Regions from separate parts of the Homo sapiens genome. Here region 2 is linked to region 1. The links come from fine-mapping of genetic effects on gene expression. Tissue or cell type: esophagus muscle. Region 1 holds a variant in brackets; the other region holds the start of a gene. All regions are shown on one strand. Distances are between the middles of the regions.

Evidence for each region. PIP is the estimated chance that this variant, and not a neighbour inherited with it, causes the effect.
Region 2: it holds the start of GDNF-AS1, and the variant in region 1 is fine-mapped to the expression of GDNF-AS1 in esophagus muscle (GTEx, PIP 0.97).

Annotation. Positions count from the first base shown.
Region 1 is chr5:37,874,680-37,886,094 of GRCh38, forward strand. GDNF-AS1 (GDNF antisense RNA 1) reads left to right here. Exons shown (of 4, transcript NR_145476.1): 4 at 22-1,120. Among named protein-coding and RNA genes, the nearest start is that of GDNF, 40 kb to the left of the region's middle. The variant A/T (reference allele first, on the strand shown) is at 6,357.
Region 2 is chr5:37,835,460-37,844,885 of GRCh38, forward strand. GDNF-AS1 (GDNF antisense RNA 1) reads left to right here and starts at 4,425. Exons shown (of 4, transcript NR_145476.1): 1 at 4,425-4,579. GDNF (glial cell derived neurotrophic factor) reads right to left here and starts at 4,582. Exons shown (of 3, transcript NM_000514.4): 1 at 4,048-4,582. RefSeq lists enhancers at 689-1,627, 1,979-2,048, 3,506-4,443.

The DNA.
Region 1 (11,415 bases):
TACTCTTTCTACTTTCTGAAGCAAGGACTATCGTTATCCCCGGAAGCAGAGAGAAGTTCCCTTTGCCCAACATCACACTGCAAGCACGTGTTGGAGCTGAGATTCAAACCCAGGCATCCAGGGTCCAGGGCCCATGCTTTTAATATATTCCATATCTTAGGAGAATTTCCCCTATTTAAACAATAAAAGTGCAAAAATCTTGTGGCTAGCCAAAATTTTCAGTTGTTTGGAAAACTTATTTATCCAATAAGTGGAAAACTCACTTGTCCTCCAACAATTCTGGATAAATGAAAGAACGAATTGAACTGAGACTGGAATCCGGGTCTCCCAGTACTTTGTAGTTCCTATCCATATGGCTTGTCAGGAAGGCCACAGGGAGGTTAACTAACTCTGCGTAACCAGAAACAATCCCACATCAGACTGTTGGCAGTGGGAGTGGAACACTCAGAGCTGAACCGCATGCAAGATGGTTGCATTTTCATTTGCAATGTCGTCATCTTCCTCATGGCTAAAGAGGTATTTTGGAGTTGACATGAAGGCTACTGTAATTTTTAGAGGCATTTTCTTTCTGGCCTGTATTTACATATTGTGGTAGAAGAGTCAGAAGACTTCAAGCTTCAAAAGTGAATCTTGTTGCGAGTTACAAAAGCACCACCCGGTGGGGTGCAGCTCTCAGCATGTGTCACCACAGGCACTGTGATTTCCCTGTCTTCATCCAACTTTGGTTGCTGTTCTTCATGCTCAGGAATTCTGCAACTGCTGTAGCTTTTGCTGTTGTTATGTCTGTAGGTATGGACTCATTTCTACCATTCTGGAATGAAACATTATTTCAAGGGAAGCTTCTCATTGTAAAAGGTCCACACATTCAGAAGGAAACTGGGAGTACATTTTCTCATAGGCCTGGAGCATTAACTGACTATGCATCTTTCCCCTCAGTGTTGTCATCATGTTGTAAGGGGATGAGTCATGGACAACATTTTCACACACATACGTGAGGTCCATTGACCAGTCTTTAGGACAACTAGAAATCTTTTCTTTCTTTGTTTTAAAAAGGAAGACAAGTCAAGATACAGCAAATAAAAATGCTCAGCACATTTGCTGAAATCTTAGCAAAATCAAATTACTAGTAATTTGTTAATCACACTATACCTGTTTTGAGCCAATCCTACTTAACCCACCCTCCATCTTCCTCATGCTTGCCTCCCTGGTGAACTCCTATTTATGTTACAAAGCTCAGTGTTTATGTTACTACTTTTGTGCTATTTCTGAACGTTAAATGTACCTCTATTATAGAACATATCTCATGGAATAGTTATTATTGCATATCCACTGCCCTTGTTAGGCTGTGAGTGAGCTTTCTTTCTTTCTTTTTCTTTCCTTCCCTCCTTCCTTCCCTACTTCCTCCCTCCCTCCCTCTCTCCCTCCCTCCCTCTCTCCCTCCCTCCCTTCCTTCCTTTGCTCCTTCTCTCTTTCTCTCTTTTTCATTTCTTTTCTTTTTTTTTAAATTTGAGACAGGGTGTCACAAATATGAATGGGACCTGTGAATATGATGGCTGTCACTCTCTGATTAGATTACATTATATGGCTAAGGTGAAGGAATTCTGCAGATGTAATTAAGGTCCCAGATGAGTTGATATTGAGTTACTCACAAAGGAGATTATACTGGATGGCCCTACCTTAATCAGGGAAAAGCCCTTAAAAGAGGACTGGGCCTTTCCTGAAGGAGGACAGTCCACTGCTGGCTTTGAAGCAGTAAGCAGCTGTGTTTTAAGGGGGCCTATGGAGGGGCCCATGTGGCAAGGTCCTGAGGGTGGCCTCTAGGAGTTGGCAGCAGTTCCCAGCCACTGGCTAGCAAGAAAACAGGTGGTTCAGCCACATAGCCACAAGGAAATGAATTCTACCAACAATCCAAATGAGCTTGGAAGTGGATATTTTCCATGGTCAAGCCTCCAGACGAACACCTTAACTGTAACATATGAACAGCTGAGCAGAGGACCTGCTTCAGCCATGCCTGGACTCCTGACTTGTGGAAACTGAGATAACAAATGTATATTATTTTAAGCTGGTAAGGTTGTGGTAATTTGTTATGCAACAATGCCGAATACAGTAGGCATCTTAAATGTTTGTTGAACTTAATTTAATCAGGGAAATATAATATTTAAAAGGAATCTTTTCTAAAGTTTTAGCCAATTTAATGAATGTAGATATCTTAAAGAATTGCCATCTTCCTTTGGATCTTCTAGCCATGCAATCGACTTCACAAACTTCCAAGTTTTCATAAATACCAGCTTCTGATTGTCTGGAAACAGGAAGTGAGATTCTCTCCAGCCATCATTTGGCATTCTTGGGAGATAGAATGGATAAAAATTGATGTTGAAATGAGACCACCATCATTTTTCAGTCTGCTCACCACGTACAGAGCTCAGGATGATTAGAAAATGTAAAACACATGTGAGTGGCTCAAACCCCTTTAGTTAAATCACATTTACATAGATCAGTTTTCCCAAGGGATATAAGTTAGCTGAACTTAAGCAATTAAAAAAAATAAAACTAAACTAAAACCTTTTGCTAAAGCCAAAAAACATGGATGAGTTAAACTGTATCAGATGGAATGGTTTGTTTTGAAAAGTGTTTGGTTTGTTGTCTATATACGTGCGTGCTTTTTTAAAAGGCAGATAGAAAAGCAGAACTTACAAGACCTTTAGCTGCTGAGGTGGAAAGCCAGTATTACTTCTACCACAGCAGTTGATATCATCGGTCTCACCAGCAGGTCACGGATTTGTTGCTTGCTCCCTGTGACAATCTTGAACCATTGTAGGGACCTTGGCATATAGAGGGACGGTGAACAGGGCTGAAAACAAAATTGAACTCAATCTTGAGCTTGGTATTCCACCGAGAGCAGGTTTTCTGGGCTTTGAAATACCGCCTCAGAGAGACCTTCCTTGATATTCTGCCATGTTGAGAACAAGAACAAACTTTTTGGCCCTGGAACCTCTTCCCTCCCAGTGCCAACATGTTCAATTTCATTTGCCCTTGGCTAAATGTAGCTTCCTGTTTCTAAGAAAAGAAGCAGAAAGGGGCTTTTGAAGGCCTCACAGACAGTCTCAGAAGGCTTCATGGGCAGCAGACAACTCTTAGCAAACAACAATTTGATGAGTTAAGTGTAAACGGCTCAGAGACATATGGATTACATTTTTTGGGAAATACACATGGGCTTACAATGTAAAACTGGGTAGTGTGGGGTGGGGTGGAGAAGGGAATGCTTGGAAAAGTGTGGTTTGGGTCTTGCTAATTGCAAAATATTTGAAACAAATAATTTGAGATGTTTTGCTCAACGTACAGCGCGGTTGGATTTGCCCTTTCCATCTATTTACGTGTCATTTTCAGATTCGGCTCACATACCAATACTGGTTTGGGTCTTGAGTTGATTTTTAAAAATGCAGTTATTTTGAAAGGTCATGCCATGTGATTTCTGTGTAGCCTCTGAGCATAAAGGGTGGGGTGGTATAGGGGAAGAACTGGGCATTTAGAAACCTCTCTGCCTGTAGGTCAAACTGCTGCTCAGCTCTTCTGGTATATTCTACTTATGGAGGTTCCAAATCCAGGCTGTGTTAGTAAGATGCAGCAGCCTCAGTCTCCCCACCTGTAAAATGGGGACAGTAATACTTATCCCAGAACCCATGGCGATTGGGATGCTGTGTGGTGTGGAGTTAAAGTGTGGACCCTGGAGGCATATACCTGTGCATATCCCAGCTCTGCTGCTGATGTGAGCTTGGGCAAGTTCTTCAGCTTCCCTGGGCTTTTGTTTCTTCATCTGTGTAATGAGGAATATCTTAGCATCCACCACATAGGGTTACCTTGAGAATTAAAAGATTTAACCCAGTCCCCGGCACACAATAAGTGTTCAGCAAATGCTAACAGTGGCTCTTGTTGTTTATAATTTATCTTGTTCTATTAAGTATATGAATACAGTAGATAATAAGGCAAATTCACCTCCAGGCTGGGGAGAGGAATAGCCCCTTACCAAACAGTGAGGGTCTCCTTCAGCTTACCTTCTTTTTCTTATTGTTTCAACCTATGGATTAATTACCTAGTTTTGTGACCCCAAAATAAAAGGGTAGATTCCTTGATCTAAAATTAGACTCATCTTTTCCCTATCCTAGGAAGGATCCGTTTCTCTCTTCTATTTTACCACTGTCTAGCACCTGGAGACACTTGGTTTAAGAGCCCAGCTAGTTTATACTAGAGTGTGAGGGAATTCTGAGGGCTCAGGTGGAAGGAAAGCATGATTCCAGAGTGTTGTTGGGTTAATGCATTGCTTCTCAACCCTTCCTGCACATTAGAATGAATTGAGAAGCATTTCAAAAATAATAGAAATGTTAGTGTGGGGCTTCGGTATTAGTACATTTTTTAACTCCCCAGCTGCTTCTATTGCGCAGCCAGGACTGAGAACCACCCTGGCTAAGGCATTCAGTGGCATTGTAGGTGCTTCCCTGGGTCGTTTCTGACTCGCCCCTTTTAACTCACTGGCCCCTCGGACTCTGATTTCTGCCCTTCATGCAGTGGGAGAGCTTTCCTCTGGGGCTTGCCTTGAGGTCTGCAGGAGCAAGGCCACTTCCTCTCTGAATCCTAGACACAGGCTTTGGGTCAGTACTCCCACCCACGTGGAGCCCCCTTCTGCCCCTCTGCTCTGGGGGATCTTGTCTGAATCCATCCCTTCTTTGCCTGCCTTATGCCTTCTAGCTACTATTCCTCTGCCCTTCCTTTCTTGATCAGCACAATTCTGCTGCTTTAAGTCCTTTTTTCCATTAACCATTGACTGCCCTTTGCTCTGTCAAACATAGTTTTGGAGGCTGTGTAGTGTAGTGAAAGAACAGGGAATTTGAGGTTGGACCTGGGTTTAACTCTCTCCTTGATTGCTGACAAGTTACTTAACCTCTACTCATTTGTAAACTAGGAATAATCTGACCTGGATGAGACTGCTGTGAAGATGAAAAGAGGTAAAGGAGGGGTGATGGTGTGGTAGTGGTGGCCTGGTGAGAATGACGGTGGTGGAGTGATGGTGATAATGAGAATGATGATAATGGTAATGGCGGTGTTGCGGTGAGGGTGTTGATGTGGTGGTAGTGCTGATTTTCGTGGCAGGTGATGGCTATAGTGATAGGGGTGGTGGTGATGATGGTGGTGGTAGTTGTAATGGTGACTGTGATGGTGGTGTTGATGATACTGGTGATAGCAGTAATGGTAGTGATGATGGTAATGATGGTGTTAATGATGGTGGTTTGATGGTGGTGAACATGACAGTGGAGGTGGTTGTAGTAATGATGATAATGATTTGGTGGTGGTGGTAGTTGTGGTGGTGGTGGTGATGGTGGCAGTGGTTTAGTGGTAAAAGTTCAGTCAAGAAAGAAGAAAGCTGGAGGAACCAACAGTATTCTGATCAGAGGAACCACATGGGAAGCATTGACAGAGGGTCTTTGCATTTGCTAAGGCCATGGGAGTAGCTGGTTGTATCAGTTAGCATTTGATCAGGAAATCAGAGCTACTCTGTATGACACGGAATAAGGGATTAATCATAGGGATTAAACTTACCCATTATGAAAACTAGTAAAAAAGTCTAGGCAAGGCTGTTGCCTCTGTATCTGGTGTTGGGCTTGACGTTTCTTTGGGTCAGCAGGGCTTACAGATGGGACAGAAAGTGGATGGAAAGGGGAGAGCAAGAACAAACTGGACCATGTCTCTGACTCTCACCACCTGCAGTGGTAACACAGTGACCTGCAGGAAAAGCCAATGCCTCTCATCTCAGGCCTGGACATGCACCTGGGTCAGGACTCTGGGCTGGAGGAGACCCAGGGAGCCGGAGGTACTGGAGCCCTGCTCCATCAAGGTGAGGCAGCAGGTCTGAGATATATGTGAGCTGCTGCTGCGCCGGGTCCCTAATTAAACCTCCTGAGTGGAATGGCTACTGCTTCCCTTCTGCCTTCCAATCTTCTCACAGATTTCTCTTGTTGCCAGCTTTAATCTGGAACCATAGAGGAAGGAACTTTGGGAAATGTGGTTCCTGCTTAGTTCTGGTGGCACAGCACAAGTCACTGCCGAGGGGTCCCCATGTGGATTGGATGGGTTAAAAGCTTCAGCACCTGTAGTGGCCTGTGCAGTCTACTTGCTCTGACATTTCAAGCCTGGAGAGGCAAGGGGGACAAGAGCTGAGCTGAGGGCCATGCCAGGGAACTGGACAAGGAAGGCCTTGGCACTCTCAAGTCAGGGAATAGCCTCGCCATTTCATCTCATCCCCAGATGCTGGAGTGCGTTGGTCTCCCTTCTAACCTCTAACCACTGAAAGGGACCCTCTGTAC[A/T]ACCAATCCTTGACTTTGGAATCATGGGCTGAGTAAGGCTGAAACATTTAGCCGTCTTTGGGACCCCAGTATTTCCCTAGTCTCACTCTAGTGTCTCTTGAAGTGGCTGTCTTTCAAGGTGTTGACCCTACTCCCTGTTTCTAACATCTGCCTGCTACATAATCCAGCTGGACTTCTCAGGTATCCCTGGTGGCTGAACTCCTTAGACCAGGGAGCTCCCCTAGTGCCTCTAGTGCTGACAAAGTGCCACTTTGCAACAGTTTCTGCCCTTTTCCCGGTTCTCTGGCTTCTAAAGCCTTCATTTATCCACAGATAGAAATACAATCAATCCCATCCTTACTCTTTCTTTTGACAATTTTCTTCATCAGATATACACTTAGAATTTAACTCAACTGTGTTCTCTCCTATTTTGTCGGTCACTGCTGTAACTTACATGGAATCATGGTTGGGTGGCAGGGACTGAAGTAGTTAGTTCTCACTTATTTACTGTGAAATGAATAGTTTGAGATTCGGTCAGTAGTCAGAATGGTATTCTTCACTTCCTCCTTTTCTTTATTTACTATGCTACCTGGTTTGTGAACATTTTCTCCAGCTGCAAGCAATTTACACAAACTGTAAACTCTTTATCCATTATAATCCCTGTAACTATGCCTAGAGACTGGAAAATGACCAGTTGTCATTACATTCGGAAAAGCATAGAAAGGATCTCCTTACTTGTGGCCCTACACCTGGTACTTTTCAGATAGTAGATGAGTTATTAGGATGATTTGCACCTCAGTTTTCTTATCTGTAAAATGGGAGGGTTGCCTTGCATTTCATGCTGTGTTCTTTGATGCCCTGGGGGATTGCCGGATTGCCAGAGGACTCATTGGGAATTTGGGGATGGGGAAGAGCATGTGTCTAGAGGGCCTTCATCCCTCATTCAACTAGCAAAAAGCCACTTATTCTGTGTTATATATTTGGTTTCTATGAGAGATTGGATTATTGGTCAGCAATAAAAATCACTCCCTTCCTTCTTCCTCTTGGAGCAGACCGTAACTCCCCTGTTCTACTGACTTTGGGCTTGGCTATATGACTAACTTTGGCCAATGAAATGTGGGAGGATGTGATGTGAATAGAGGCTTTAAATGTACTTGCATGGTTTGGCTTACCTCTTGTACTCTTCTGTTTGCTGTGAGAATATGCTGCAGGGAGCCACTGGTCCAAGGAGAAGAAGAGGGGTGTAGAACAGACCTAAACCCAACCTGTAGCCTGAAACAGAGCCGAGTCCAGCCTAGATCCACTTATAGTCAACCTGTTGATCTGTTAGCACAAAAACACATGCTGCCATAAGCTGTTGTGTTTTGTTACACAGCTATAGCTGTCTAATTCAGCTTACAAATAAGTTTTGTCCATAATCATATTTTTTGGTTTAAAAAAGTTTGAAAACCACTGGGTTTGCTGAGTTTTCAGCTTTCCCATCCACTTCTACTGTCCTGTTTCTTTCTCTTTGTGTATTTAGGAAAGAGAGGGAGAAAGAAAGGGTTTTGGAAACAACACAGTCTGGTAGAAAGAAAGAAAGGATAATTTTTTTCTTTTGAGGAAAGAGGGACTTAGGGAGCTGGGAGGAGAGATAGGCACATTCATAGTTAAAGTATGTTTTGTTTCTTTTTTGAACCCTCAAGTAAACATTTCTCCACTGACATTGTTTTGCACTGTTACATTATTTTGTTCACTTTAGTGTTCCATTTGTACAACCTCTGAAATTCCAGGAAGAAGGTGAAAGAATAACATTGCACATAGCCCTGGGTTGTGCTGTGTTTACTTCATGATGGACCGTTCACTTGGGCTTAACCTTAAACTGACCTTTCTGATTCCAGACGAGACAGCAAAGCTTTGCTCACAGATTCAAAATCAGGGAACAGAAACAGCTGACTTCCCTGGCCAAGGATGTTTTCCATTCTCATTATTTTTGTCCGTGGTCACAAATGAGATGCTAGGGAAGTAATTTTTAGGAATTCCTGGAGTACTTTACTTCTGATGTGCATGCACAGATACCCTGGGGTCTTATGCAATTGGTACCCCACCCCAAAGTCTGGATATATTCGTTGTAGGATGAAGAGAGGGAGGAAGGAAGGAGGACTGAGGAAGGTCTTAGGCTATTTTCAAGCTCTTTTTTGCTCCGCACTTTGCAACATGGTTTTATTTTATTCTTATAAGTTTTGAGATCATCTCAAATATAAATACAAAACCATTGATCAAAGGCCAAGAATAAGAAATATTTAGATGCCCTCTATTGCAGTGAAAAAGCAAATGGTTGCTATATCATGCGTAAAGGTAATCTCTTCAAGGATTAGCACTTTAGGTCAGATCATGGAAGCCTGGTTTTGTTTCTCAGAAAGAGTGTCTTTCTGGGGCTTGGGAGGCCAACACGAGGCAGGCTGAGCTTTGTCTATGGCAGGAGCTGAGTTTGAGTCTATCTCTGCCATTAGCCTGTGCTCAGGTTGTGTCCCTACACTGATGGCCATCAGAATTTGGGTATCAAGTGATTCGCTTGCTTGTACTAGATTGAGCTCCTTTGAGGACAACAGGAGCCATTAATATTTTAGAGCCAGAGGCCAGGCATGGTGGCTCACGCCTGTAATCCCAGCACTTTGGGAGGCTGAGGCGGGCGGATCACAAGGTCAGGAGATCGAGACCATCCTGGCTAACATGGTGAAACCCCATTTCTATGAAAAATACAAAAAATTAACTGGGTGTGGTGGTGTGCACCTGTAATCCCAGCTACTTGGGGGGCTGAGGTGGGAGAATCACTTGAATCCGGGAGACAGAGGTTGTAGTGAGCTGAGATCACACCATTGCATTCCAGCCTGGGCGACAGAGCGAGATTCCATCTCAAAAAAAAAAGAACTTAGAATCTGGACTGGTATAAGCCTTAATTCAAATGCCATCTTTGCCCTGTACAAACTGTGTGACCTTGGGCAAATAACCAGTTCTTTGTTTCTTCACCTGTAAAATGGGGATAATTAGTACTTTTCTCATAGGGATGCTGTGAAGAGTCAAAGATATAATGGTTGTAGAGTGCTCATCACAGAGCCTGGCATGTTGTATCTGCTCATATATGTTAGCTATCACCATCATTGCTGCTGCTGCTGTTTTTATTAATCTAGTCCTGGGAATTTATATCATGGAAAAAAGCCAAAAAAGTTATATGCTTAAAAATGTGTATTGCATCTTGTCTATAGCAATGAGAAATTAGAAACAATCTAAGTGCCTCATTCATTCAGTCAATTTAACAAATATTTTTTGAAGTCCTATTATATGCCAGGCACTGTATCCCACTGTTTGGGGTACATCACTGAATAAGAGAGACAAAGATCCCTGCTTTTGTGATGGAGAATGGGTAGCTAAACTATGGGACAATAATTCAATGGAATGTTATACAGCTATTAAAGCAATAGCAATGAAGACATGGGAAGTTGTTTGTCGTGTCATGTAAAATCAAAAAGCAGAAGAGGAAAACATAGATGCCTTAAAATATATGTGTGGGTGGACAGAGACTAGAATGGAGCATTTAAAAATGCAAGTGGTTGTTAGAGTGATGGAATCATGTTTTTTGTTTTTCAGTAATGTTTGAAGTGGTTTTACAACATTATGGAAAAAATACATATATATGCATAAATAATTGAGAAAAATGAACTGGCCCTAAGAGAAGTTTCTTATGGTTTAGGAATCAAAGTAAGGCTTATAGGCAGAAGAGGAAATTGCCTAGGTAGCAAGGAAGGAAAAATTGCTATTTCAAACCAAAAATGACTGTTGCAGTTCCACTGTGCACTGGAAGCATGGAATTCATGCCAAGGATGTTAGTTCTTTGTTAAGGAAAACCTGTTAAGCAGATGAGTAAAAGAGGCCCTGAAGCCTCTGGAGAGAGGAGAGTTCAGACTTAAACGTCTTTGTATAATAAAGTAACAGAAGATTTCCATTTTCCCTCAGCAGTTTGGGGATGGAAGGGAGAAATAGAGATTCAGAGGCTGGAGAACTGGGAGAAGATGAGTAAAGGAAAGAGCCAGCTAAAGAGGTTGGAAGAGATGAGGCCACAATAGCAACTTGAAGAACACTGATAACTAATACTCAATTTTAAGAGATTCCCTGTCCCAGGAGACCATATGTCTCCCCACTCTTACCTTCCCTCAGGAGTCTCCAAGAGGGCACTGTACCCCCATGGGATAGGGGTTGTTATGGTTTGGATGTCCCCACCCTAATCTCCTGTTGAATGTAATCCCTAATGTTGGAGGTGGGACCTGGTGGAAGGTGTTGGGATCAGGGGGGTGGATCCCTCATGAATGGCTTGGGCCATCCCCTTGGTGATAAGTGAGCTCTGGCTCTGAGTTCACAGAAGATCTGGCCATTTAATAGTGTGTGACACCTGCCCCCACCCCTCTCTGTCTTGCTCCTGGTTTCACCATGTGATGTGCAAGCTCCCACTTTGCCTTCTGCCATGAGTAAAAGCTCCCTGAGGGCTCCCTAGAAGCCAAGCAGATGCTGGCACCATGCTTCCTGTACAGCTTGCAGCACTGTGAGCCTGAAACTTTTCTTTATAAATTACTGACTTTCAGGTATTTATAGCAATGCAAGAATGACCTAACACAGGGGCTTGGGTCATTTTGTTTGGTTATTAAAAGAAGGCTGATGTCATAGAATATTCAGGGTTCACCTACACAGGGGGGATCTGAGGGGTCAGAAGCTACCTGTTTCAAATTGACTGCTTTTGGGGCCTGAAATGGCTTCATTGCCACCACTAGCAATATGATCTTTTGCAAATAGACAATCTAGGATCCCTGATTTTTTAGGTGCAGCAAGGTCTGGGAGAAGTGTTGCTCTTCCATGAAGACCTTAAGGAGAATGATTCTGACAGATCATTGATCTTCTGAGGCAGGAGGCTGAGCAGGTTTTTATTAATGGGTGGAGAAGGGAACAGTGAGCACACAGGAGAGTGATACTGGGGCTTGGAGACTGGGAGGCGGGAGGCAGGTGGTGGGAGGAAGCCTTCTGCAGCCCAAAGTCTCTTAGGACAACTGGG
Region 2 (9,426 bases), 40 kb before region 1:
TAGCAGGGACTTGGAGACTTTTGGCCTGTATGGGATATCTGGTTTAAGTTACTTAACTTCCCAAAGCACTGATTCGATTTAAAATACTCCTCCCACCTCTTAAAGTTATGAACATTAAATCACGCATGACAAGCTCTAGCGGAACATGTAGTAAGAGCTCAGTAAATGCTTTACCATTGCTGTTAGGCAAAGACTGCATTTGTCTTGAAAGTTTTAATCCTCCGTGGTATACCCGAAAACCCTCTCTTGACTGGATTTTTGCACCTTTGAGAGATTCTGGCCCTAATCCCTTCCCCTCCCAGAGGAGTCACTGGCTCCCCGCGCCCCCGTCACGCCTGGACGACTGTACCCAGTCTCGGACGCTTTGGAGGTGCTCTGGCACTGGAAGGCCTAGACCGTGGTACGGCGCAGAGTAGGGGGTTCAGCTCTTTTCAGCCCGAGGTGGGCTCTGTTTGGCTTCTCAATCCTCACACCCCTACAAAGGAGGGCCACGCAGCTGGGGGTGGGTTAGAAAAAGGGGCTGTAAATTTGGGGGCGAGTTCCAACCAATGAGGAGACGGGGAAGAACCGAGGCATCTTGGGGTGCAGTGTTATCCAGTGCCTTCCTAATCCCAGGGTTCGTCTCCAGGGCACTAGTGACCTAGAGAGAATCTCCTCAAGCGGAATCTGCGAGATTCGTGCAGTCGATTATCCTATCCCCTCGACCGGCTCCATAAAACGGTTCTTAGGAAAAACTCGATTTTTTTTTTCCCATGCGGGAGGGAAATGCAAAACCCAGGTTAATGCAAAAACCTCAGTGCCTTTCCTAGCCATTAGTTCACAGGCACCCCCGCCTCCATTCCAGGGTTCCAGTCCTCATCTCTACCCGGAACCCCACTCCCTGTCCCGGTGCAGGCAACCCGGGGAAGCCTTTAATTCGGCCGCCACCTCCCACCTCTGCAGAGACTAATGCATTTTACATCTCCTGAGCGTCTGTTTGTTCGCTATGCAGCTGTTGGGCTCGAGAGGGTGTAGGGACTAGAAACTCCTAGTGACCTGCAGCACCGAGCGCCTCTTGCCTCGCGGGCTGGTTTGCAAACTCGGGAAAAAGCTAGGTTCTGGGTCGCGATGTGCAGACACAGGAAAACTGCACCAGGCCATGCAAAATGAGCCCAGAAAGGTACTTTGGCAGCTAGGACCTGGGGAACGCGAGCTTCCCCCCTCAAGCCCCCCGCCGGTGCCAGCTCCCGGGTGCGTGCGAAATGGCTGGCGGTCCGACCGGAGGAGCATGGAGGCGCGGGGTTAATGCGCCATTCCAAATCGCGGTGCCCGCCAGCAGGAAGCCACAGAGGCACTAGATTTCCCTTCCGTCTTAAGAGGGTTTTCCCTTTTTTCCTGCTTGGCCGACGGAGGGCTTTTTAAATTGGACGTGGAGATCCTCAATTAGAAGTGTGGCGAAGCTGGCAAAAGACTACACAGTGGAAAACTCCCCGCGTCGCCAGAGGAGGCTCCCGGCTGCGGTTCCCGCCCTCGGCCGAGCGCCGCCAGCGCCCGGATCGAGCTCCCCTCTTCCCCCGGGACAGGGAGGGCGCATTCTTCCCTCTGAGCGCCGCCGGGACCGGCTCCAGTCCGAGGGGCTCTTTCGTTCTCGGTATTTGCTGGGCGGGGGAAAAGGGGGGAGGTTGGGGGACTCGGCACACACAGCGTCTACTAGGACGTTTTTCTTAGAGTCCGTGTGGGCTCCACCCCTCGGCTTCTCAGTTTGTCTCTCTATCGCTTTCCCAAAACACATCTACATCTGCCCGACGCGCTTCTCCTCAACCATGGGCCTTTGCCCGCGGTGCAAACTGCTTTACGCGCCGCCACGTGCGAGAACCAAGCTCTGCTCCTCAAGTGACGGGGGCTCTGCTCTGCCAGGTGACCGCGCACCATTTCTCGTGCCTGGCAAGCTGGTCCCCTTCTGGGTCCGGGACCACCACGTCCCGGCAGGGCAAAAGCAGCAGGCCGTGGGCGCCGGCACCTGTGGGTCCCCAGGCCTGGGGAGGCAAGGACGCCCAGGAAAGCCACAGAAGTGCTCGCAGAAGCAGCCGCTCGCCGCGAGGCACTTCTGAGTTCCCGGCAGCAGGGGGCACCAGAAACCGTCTGAGCCGTGTCGCGCCCACGCGGCCCGGAGGCTGTGTTATCATTTTAGTTATAAAACCGGAGAACCACCACTCCCTCTACGAGCCTCCCGAAATCCCATTAGCCCGGGAACCTGTGGAGGTCCTTACTGGCATCTCTGCTTTTCAGGCTCCCACCCCTCCATTCTCGCTGGTTTTCCTCTCCCCACTTCACCTGAGCGGGTTTCTTGGCAACCTGCTTTCAGACCATCCCTCACCCCTTCCACGCGTCACCGTGACAGATTCGCAGGAGGCAGCGCTCCCGCCGTCAGTGCCCCCGCACCTTCTTGTGCCTGGCAGGCTGGGAGGTTTGTTTGGGCTTTGCCTTCAAGATCCAGGTCTCAGAGAGAGAAAAAGGAGGCGGTGGGGCGGGGAGACGGGTTTGCTATAAACTCGGTTTTTTTTTTTTTTTTTTTGGCGGGGGGAGGTAGAGACAGAAATTGCTGGAAGATCTATTGCTTTTCTTAACTATGCTTCGTGTCCTTGACTGACAGAGGACTTATTCTCCCCTCAACCCCCCATAACTGCGGGGCCCAAGATGAGGGAAGGAAAAAGAATTTGGGACACTTCTCGCAGGCAAACTGGGAAAGCGGTCTGTTTAAAGGGCCAGGTTCCAGGCCCGAGAGCACCCGAATTGCTAGCGGGAAAGGGCTAGGGACACGGCGGACTTCCCAGAGATCGGACACTTGTTACTTGTTGAAAAGGCGCCACCTTCCCTGACAAAGCGAAGGCGCAGCGAAACAGTACGAGTTTGGTCGAGGCCGGCTTTGACGGCTTTGCGGGACTGGGTGCGTGAATGAGGTTGGAAGAAACATCTCTTCCTTGAAATACCTAAGCATATATTCCAAACACTGAGCAAGAGTCGAGCGCGTTCTAACATCTCCGCAGCAGGGGCCGGAAGAGTTGCCTTTGTCCCCGCCTATGAGCAGAAGGGTCGCGAGCTCTGGGATGGGTAAGCCCCCCGGGGGCGCGCACATGGGTCCTGGCGGCGGATTCTACCAAAGCCGAAACTAGCTGGGCCCCAGGAAGCTGGCGGGAACCCGCGAAAGTCCGTTTCCAGCCCGAAGAGGGTTCGTTTTTCTTCGTTGGGGCAGGAAACAAACCACCAGTGCGGAATTAGCCTCGAGGTGGTGTAAAGTAGTGGCAGTGGTGGTGGGGTGTTTTTGGAAGGCGGCACAGAGTACAGGAGAAAAAGGGGTCATTAAAATAATAACCTCAATGGCCTAGTGGAGTCTCAAGAATACGTTCGAGACAGAGATTTGAATCCAGGACTGGCAAGAAAGCCCCTCTCCTAACCTCGACGGGGATGGTTAGTTGGGGTGGAGGGCGTTAGGAACGTGCAGGCAACCGGGTGAGGAATGTAGCTTTGCCAGACCTCGCCCGGAGGAGGTGAGCCCTCCATTTTTAGGTTCTCAGCACCTTTGCAGCAGCCCCTCCCCCGGCCTGCGCTTTTCCTTGGCACAGATCAAAACAAGCTCAATAGTAAGTTGCACTCTTGGCAATGATAGTATCTCTGCACGTCCAGAGAGGACACATTTCGACGGCGGTGGGTTCGAAGATGACCCAAGCCCTGAATCGTTCTGTGACTTGACGGAAGAGCACCTGGCCGAGTCGGGGAAGGAAACTGCCCCTCTTGGGCATTCCGGGTCCAGGCGCATCTGGGGCTCCACAGATCTTTGCCCACGTGGAAAAGGCAACATGCCCCTCCGAAAGGCCGGCCTCTCTCCGGTTCTACTTTTCTCTCTCCTCGCATAGCTTAGGTTCCCTCTAGTCTTTCCACTTTCTACTCTCACCGTTTGCTCTGGGGTCCAGACGCACCCCTCTGACTAGGGCGCCCTTCAGCCGGCCGCACCCACCCGCGACGCAGGCACCACCCGCTCCCTGCTCCCCGGCCCGCTCCCTCACTTACCTCGGATCGGGTCTCCGCAGACCCTAGGTTGGACATTAACTCCAGGTGCCCCAAGTCCCAGCCAGGAGACCCATCCGGGCTGATGGCTGGAGCGCGGAGCCCCGCCCAACAGGTCAGGGGCAAGAGTTCGCAATCCTGGGGTCGCGCGGGGCAGCAAGGGCGCGCTGGAGGCGGCGGCCAAGACTCCCGCCGCCGCCGCCGCCAACAGGGCGAGGGCTGCCGGCAACTCTCCCGCCGGGCCCCCGCACCCCCAGAAGCCGAGGTCCGAGCAGCCGCCGCTGCTTTGGGTGGGGGGCTGACAGGGCTGCGCGCGTCGCGCTCTTGGCTGGGGCTGCGCGGGCCCGGGGCGCTGCGGGCGGCTCAGCGGCAGCTGCCGCGCTCTGCGCCTCCTCTGGGCGCACTGCCTGGGAGCACGAGACTGGTTTGTCTGATGCTGCTGCCGGAGCTGAGGTCTTGCCTGGAGATCCGAACGAGACACCACGTCAACCGGCGCGGGGAGTCCCGTGAAGACATGAGGGCGCCAGGAGCGCAGGCTGGTCTTCTAGAGCCCGGGCTGGGGGTCCGGGGTCCGGGGTGGGGGAGGGGAGGCGCGGGGCCCCGGGAGGGAGGGGTCGGGAGGCGTCGGCTGGGCCTGGCGGTGGGGGAGGAGAGGAGAGCAGCGAGGAGGCCCTGGAGTTCCCGAGGCGGGGGGCCGGGGTGCGAGTGGGCGACGCGAGGCGCCCCTCCCTGGGCTGCAGGGAGAGCGCTGAGAGCGCGGAGACGCCGCGGGGCTAGCGCCTTCTCCTCTCCGGGTGGATCAAAAATCGAGAGGAATGTGCGGCGCTCTGCGCGGGCCAGCCGAAAGGGGCAATCCGAACTTGACCGCGGCGCCCGCGCCGGGCTTTGCCCCCGCGCGCCGCACTGGGAGGGTGGCGCTCTGCCGGTGCAGGGCAGCGCCGGGCTTTCCTCGCGCCTGTCGAAGGCCGGCCTTCCCGCTCGGGTGTCTCGCCCTCTCGCTTCTCCGCAGGGCAGGAGGCAGTGGCGAGAAAAGGAGCTGCCGGCCGGAGTTCTAGCACCGAGAAGGAGAGGTGCGGAGCGGCCGGGTGAGGGAAGCCGAGTATTTGCCAGGGGACGCTGCGAGTGGGGATGAATTTATAGGGCTCTCACTCCGTGACGTGCCCTCCAGTGGCTTTTCTGATTCGCTTTCTGACCTAAACACACATTAGTTTAGTCCCCATGCTAAGGCCAACACGGTCTCCAAATATCTGCTGGCTGAAGTCAGAGGCTTTGCATATCATGTATTACATGGCAGGCAATGAAGAAGGCTTCTGAGGCTGGCCGGCTCCTCAGTCCTAGGCTCCATTTTCATGCTGTTGTAATCTAATACCAGACATGGGGCAGGCACATACATTCAAAATCCCAATTCCAGAGGCGTAAGATCACTTTATCAGGAACGGGTTAGGGGAGGTTGAGCTAAACCTGCTTTTATCCAGATTTTCGAAAATGCAGATGGGAAACTTCAGCAAGCGCCCACTTGGATGCTGAGTTTCCAGCGATCAGGGGCCCGGCCCCCATTCCAGAGCTCTGTGGATGGGAGAGGTGAGACCTTCTGGGCATTCCTTTTGTTGGTTAGTTCACCACCAGAAGCTGCCTGAGCCTTCTTTTGTAGAGGACAGGAGGAGGGCAAGTCCTTACACACCCTGTGCATGGCTATAACCATAAATACATTTCATTCACATGGGGCATGGAATTGGCTGTACCTCTAAAATAATGTACTAAATAGGGCATGTCTTTGCTAAGCAGAAACCTGTTTTCCGGAAGCCATTGGACCTGAATTCAGTGGGACCTCTTTTATTTTATTAGCTGGGGCCAGGGAAAGTGTAAACAGGCTCAGTTTACGTCCATGTACCTCTTATTTTATGACTCATCCGGTTGTTGGGGAGTATGTGTTCTTCAAGTAGCTGATACAGACAATAGGCAGGGGAAATGCGTGTGGCAGTGTGGGGGGAAGATCATGTATTATTAAACTTCTTAAAAGTCAAAGATCAGCTACTTTGCAGGTTTGTCAGTGAAGCGAGTGTGGGAGGAAAATTGTTCTTACTAACGTTGCTGTGATTTAAGATTAAGCGAAGTGAAAATCGAGTCATCAAAACATACCTTAGCTGAAATTAGGATGCTCTCTGGAGTTCTGCAGAAAATGACATTTCCCTCTTTGATAGATTTATGGTAGAAATGTAGTTAGATTCAGAAATTAGAGGGCAGAATAAGCTTAATATATTTATTGCCGTTTAGCATTGTTTTTGGAATTTGAAGACGACCCTCATCAATGTTCTTACTCTGAATGATTTCTTTATTTTTAGAGGGCTTTTTGCTGGGGATGATCAGCCCGTCCAAGCACCTGCAAATATCTAGCACTTGCTGTGTGCCAGGCAAAGTGCTAGGCCCTGGGCATTGTGCTGATTGGGCTTTTTTTTTGGGCGGGGGGCGGGGGTTGCAAGGAACAGATACCACTGAGGTTTACCCTCAGTAATGGGAATTTACTGTGGAAGGAAGGCTGACCGGAATCTCCACCATTCCGCCACGTGTCTCCGAAAAGCCTTCCGGAAAGGCCACCCAGCCAGGCCTCATGAAAACTGGATTGAAGTTCAGGAACTGGAAGGTCATTCAGGATACAGCTCTGTGACTGGGTTATCTCGCTGCCCCCTCAGCAGCAGGCATCTGCCGATCCCCACTAACGGCTTAGCCGCCAAGGTGATTCAGCTCCTCTCTCGCTGTTTTCCCCTGGGTGTCCTTTGGCTTCTGCTCCTGCTACCAACTGCTCAGCTCTCAGTTGATCTCACATTTAAACTCCTTTAGTGAAAGGATCTAGTTTGTCCTGCTAGGGATTCACCAGGGGTGAGAGTTGGACTGAGCCTTTGTATCAGTCTCCTTACAGGTTGCAAAACACCCTGTATATCCGCAGACCTGGGGGCAGGTGCCTATCCTGGGCCAATCATTCATGTCCAGGTTGTTGGCATCACAGAGTACACAGCCTGGCCACCTTTGCTTGAGATACTTCCTAGAGTTCCTCCCCACATTCCCTCCACAGAGGATGGTCCCTCAGAAGGAGGTGGGTTAATGGTAGGCACTTTGGGTTTTGACAGTCCTCTCCCAGCCCTTCAGAAACTACCACTACAGAGAGGGAGATATGCTCATGAGTATTGATGGTATAAAGTGATAAATACTCCAACAGAAGTATATATGAGACTCATGTCCTGGAGTCTGATTTTCACATGGCCAGTGAAACACTGGGGAGATTTCAAAAAATACCCAGACCTGTAGGCTGGAAGTGGTGGTGGCTCACACCCGTAATCCCAGCACTTTGGGAGGCTGAGGTGGGTGGATCACTTGGGGTCAGGAGTTTGAGATCAGCCTGGCCAACATGGCGAAACCCAGTCTCTACTAAAAATAGAAAAATTAGCTGGTTGTGGTGGTGGGCACCTGTAATCCCAGCTACTTGGGAGGTTGAGGCATGAGAATTGCTTGAACTTGAGAGGTGGAGATTACAGTGAGTAGTGATTGCACCACTGTACTCCAGCCTGGGTGACACAGTGGGACTCTGTCTCAAAAAAAAAAAAAAAAAAAAGTCCCAGACCTAGGCCTTGTTCAGGGCAATTAAATCAGAATCTCTTGAAGGGTGGAGCTCAGGAGTTGATTTTTCAGATGCTCCCAGGTTAGTGAATTGGCTTTATCTTTTCCCAGTGGTTGCAATCATCTTATGATTCTTTTTGAAAGCAAAATGAAGAAGCCCTATTTTGATAGGTTCTAAGACTAAGACTCTTCCAAAACATTAAATTCCTTTCAAAATACAAAGTATCTTAAAACAGTAATATAAAGGAAAATGTTAAATTTAATTTAGAATTAAAGCAAATATTTCTAATTTTGAAAGAACATTTATTTACATGGCTACAGCATACAGATGAATTCAGCAAAAGTTCCTTCTGAAGTGACTGCCTTGAATAGAGTTAAGATGGGAAGCAAACATTTGGTGTCTTGGGAACAAGGGGATGGCCTGATGTCACAGTCTCACGCCCCCATAAGCTGAAAGTAGGGAGCCCCACAGCTCCGAGGCTCCAGCTTCTCTGTTCTCAAGGAAACGGAATAGTTTGATTTGAAGCTGTTCCTCAGCGAAGTCCAGAAGGGAAGAATTTGCAGCACCGACTCTGCTCTCAATAGGCAGAACATCCTCTGATAAAGCAACAACAGCAACATACTGCTAAGGATTCTCACATTGTCCCCAGATCTCAGCTTTTTATCTAGGAAGCCCTGCCTGAGAATCAGAGAGAACAAACATTGTTCAAGCCTCCCATCTCCTCTTTGAGAAAAAAGGTTCGAAGCCCTGCTAATTTCCTATTTCATCGCTATCGTCCTCTTCACTGGGATTTCTTGTGAGTCTCTAACTGAAAGTTGTCTAAATGATCGGTGCAATTTGTGCCCAAGGATCTTACAGTCCTTGGGAAGAGAAAACACAACCATAAAATGATGAAAAATAATACAGGGTATTATAAGGTTATGGAACTCAAACTAGCCCTTGATTGGAGTAAGTAAGCAGAGAGGAGGTGGGGGTGAGGGGACATTCCAGGCTGGCTGAAAGGGTCGCTGGAGGAGACTGGATGCTAGGTACTGCCACATTCTTGCTCAGCCTCTGTGGCCCTGTAGGGCTGCAGCCTGTAGACGTGATGGGGTGGGTGGGTCAGCTTTTGGCCATTCACAGAGTCCTTGGCGAGCTCCCAGTGGGGCTTTGCAGCTGCTTTGACTATGAGGGCCAGGACCCCGGTCCCTGGACTGCCTCATAACTTGGGTCGTGAGGACTGAAACAGAATCCATCACTTAAGCAGAGCAATTTCCTTTTCAAAGTCACAGCTTTATTGGACTGCGATTTGTTCCATGCTTGCTTGCTTTTTAACAGCCATTTTCACGAATGATCCTATTACTCATGAAGGAAAGATAGATTTGCCTTCAGACCACTTAAAAAAAAGTGAAAAGAAAAAAAGAAAGGGGAAAAATTCACTGTAATGGCCTTTTTGCAAGTAGTGGGAAGTGACAAATTCTTTGGAGTAAATCGTTTCTCATAAGAAATCAATCCTGACATTGGCAAGGGAGATTTATCAGTGATTTCCAGCAGTTTCTTTCATTAGGATCAAATTGTCTCATTGTCCACTAATTTTGTTTTTGGCTCTTGAAATTACTTTGTGAAATTTCTCTTTTCCAGAGATAAAACTTCAATCAGGTGAGAGTGTTGCGGCAGACTTTCTTACTATGCAAATGGTCTGATGGCTTAGGTCTGGGGTTAGCAAACATTTTCTGTAAAGATAGTAAATATTTTAGGCTTTGCAGGCATACTGTCTCTGTTGCAACTTC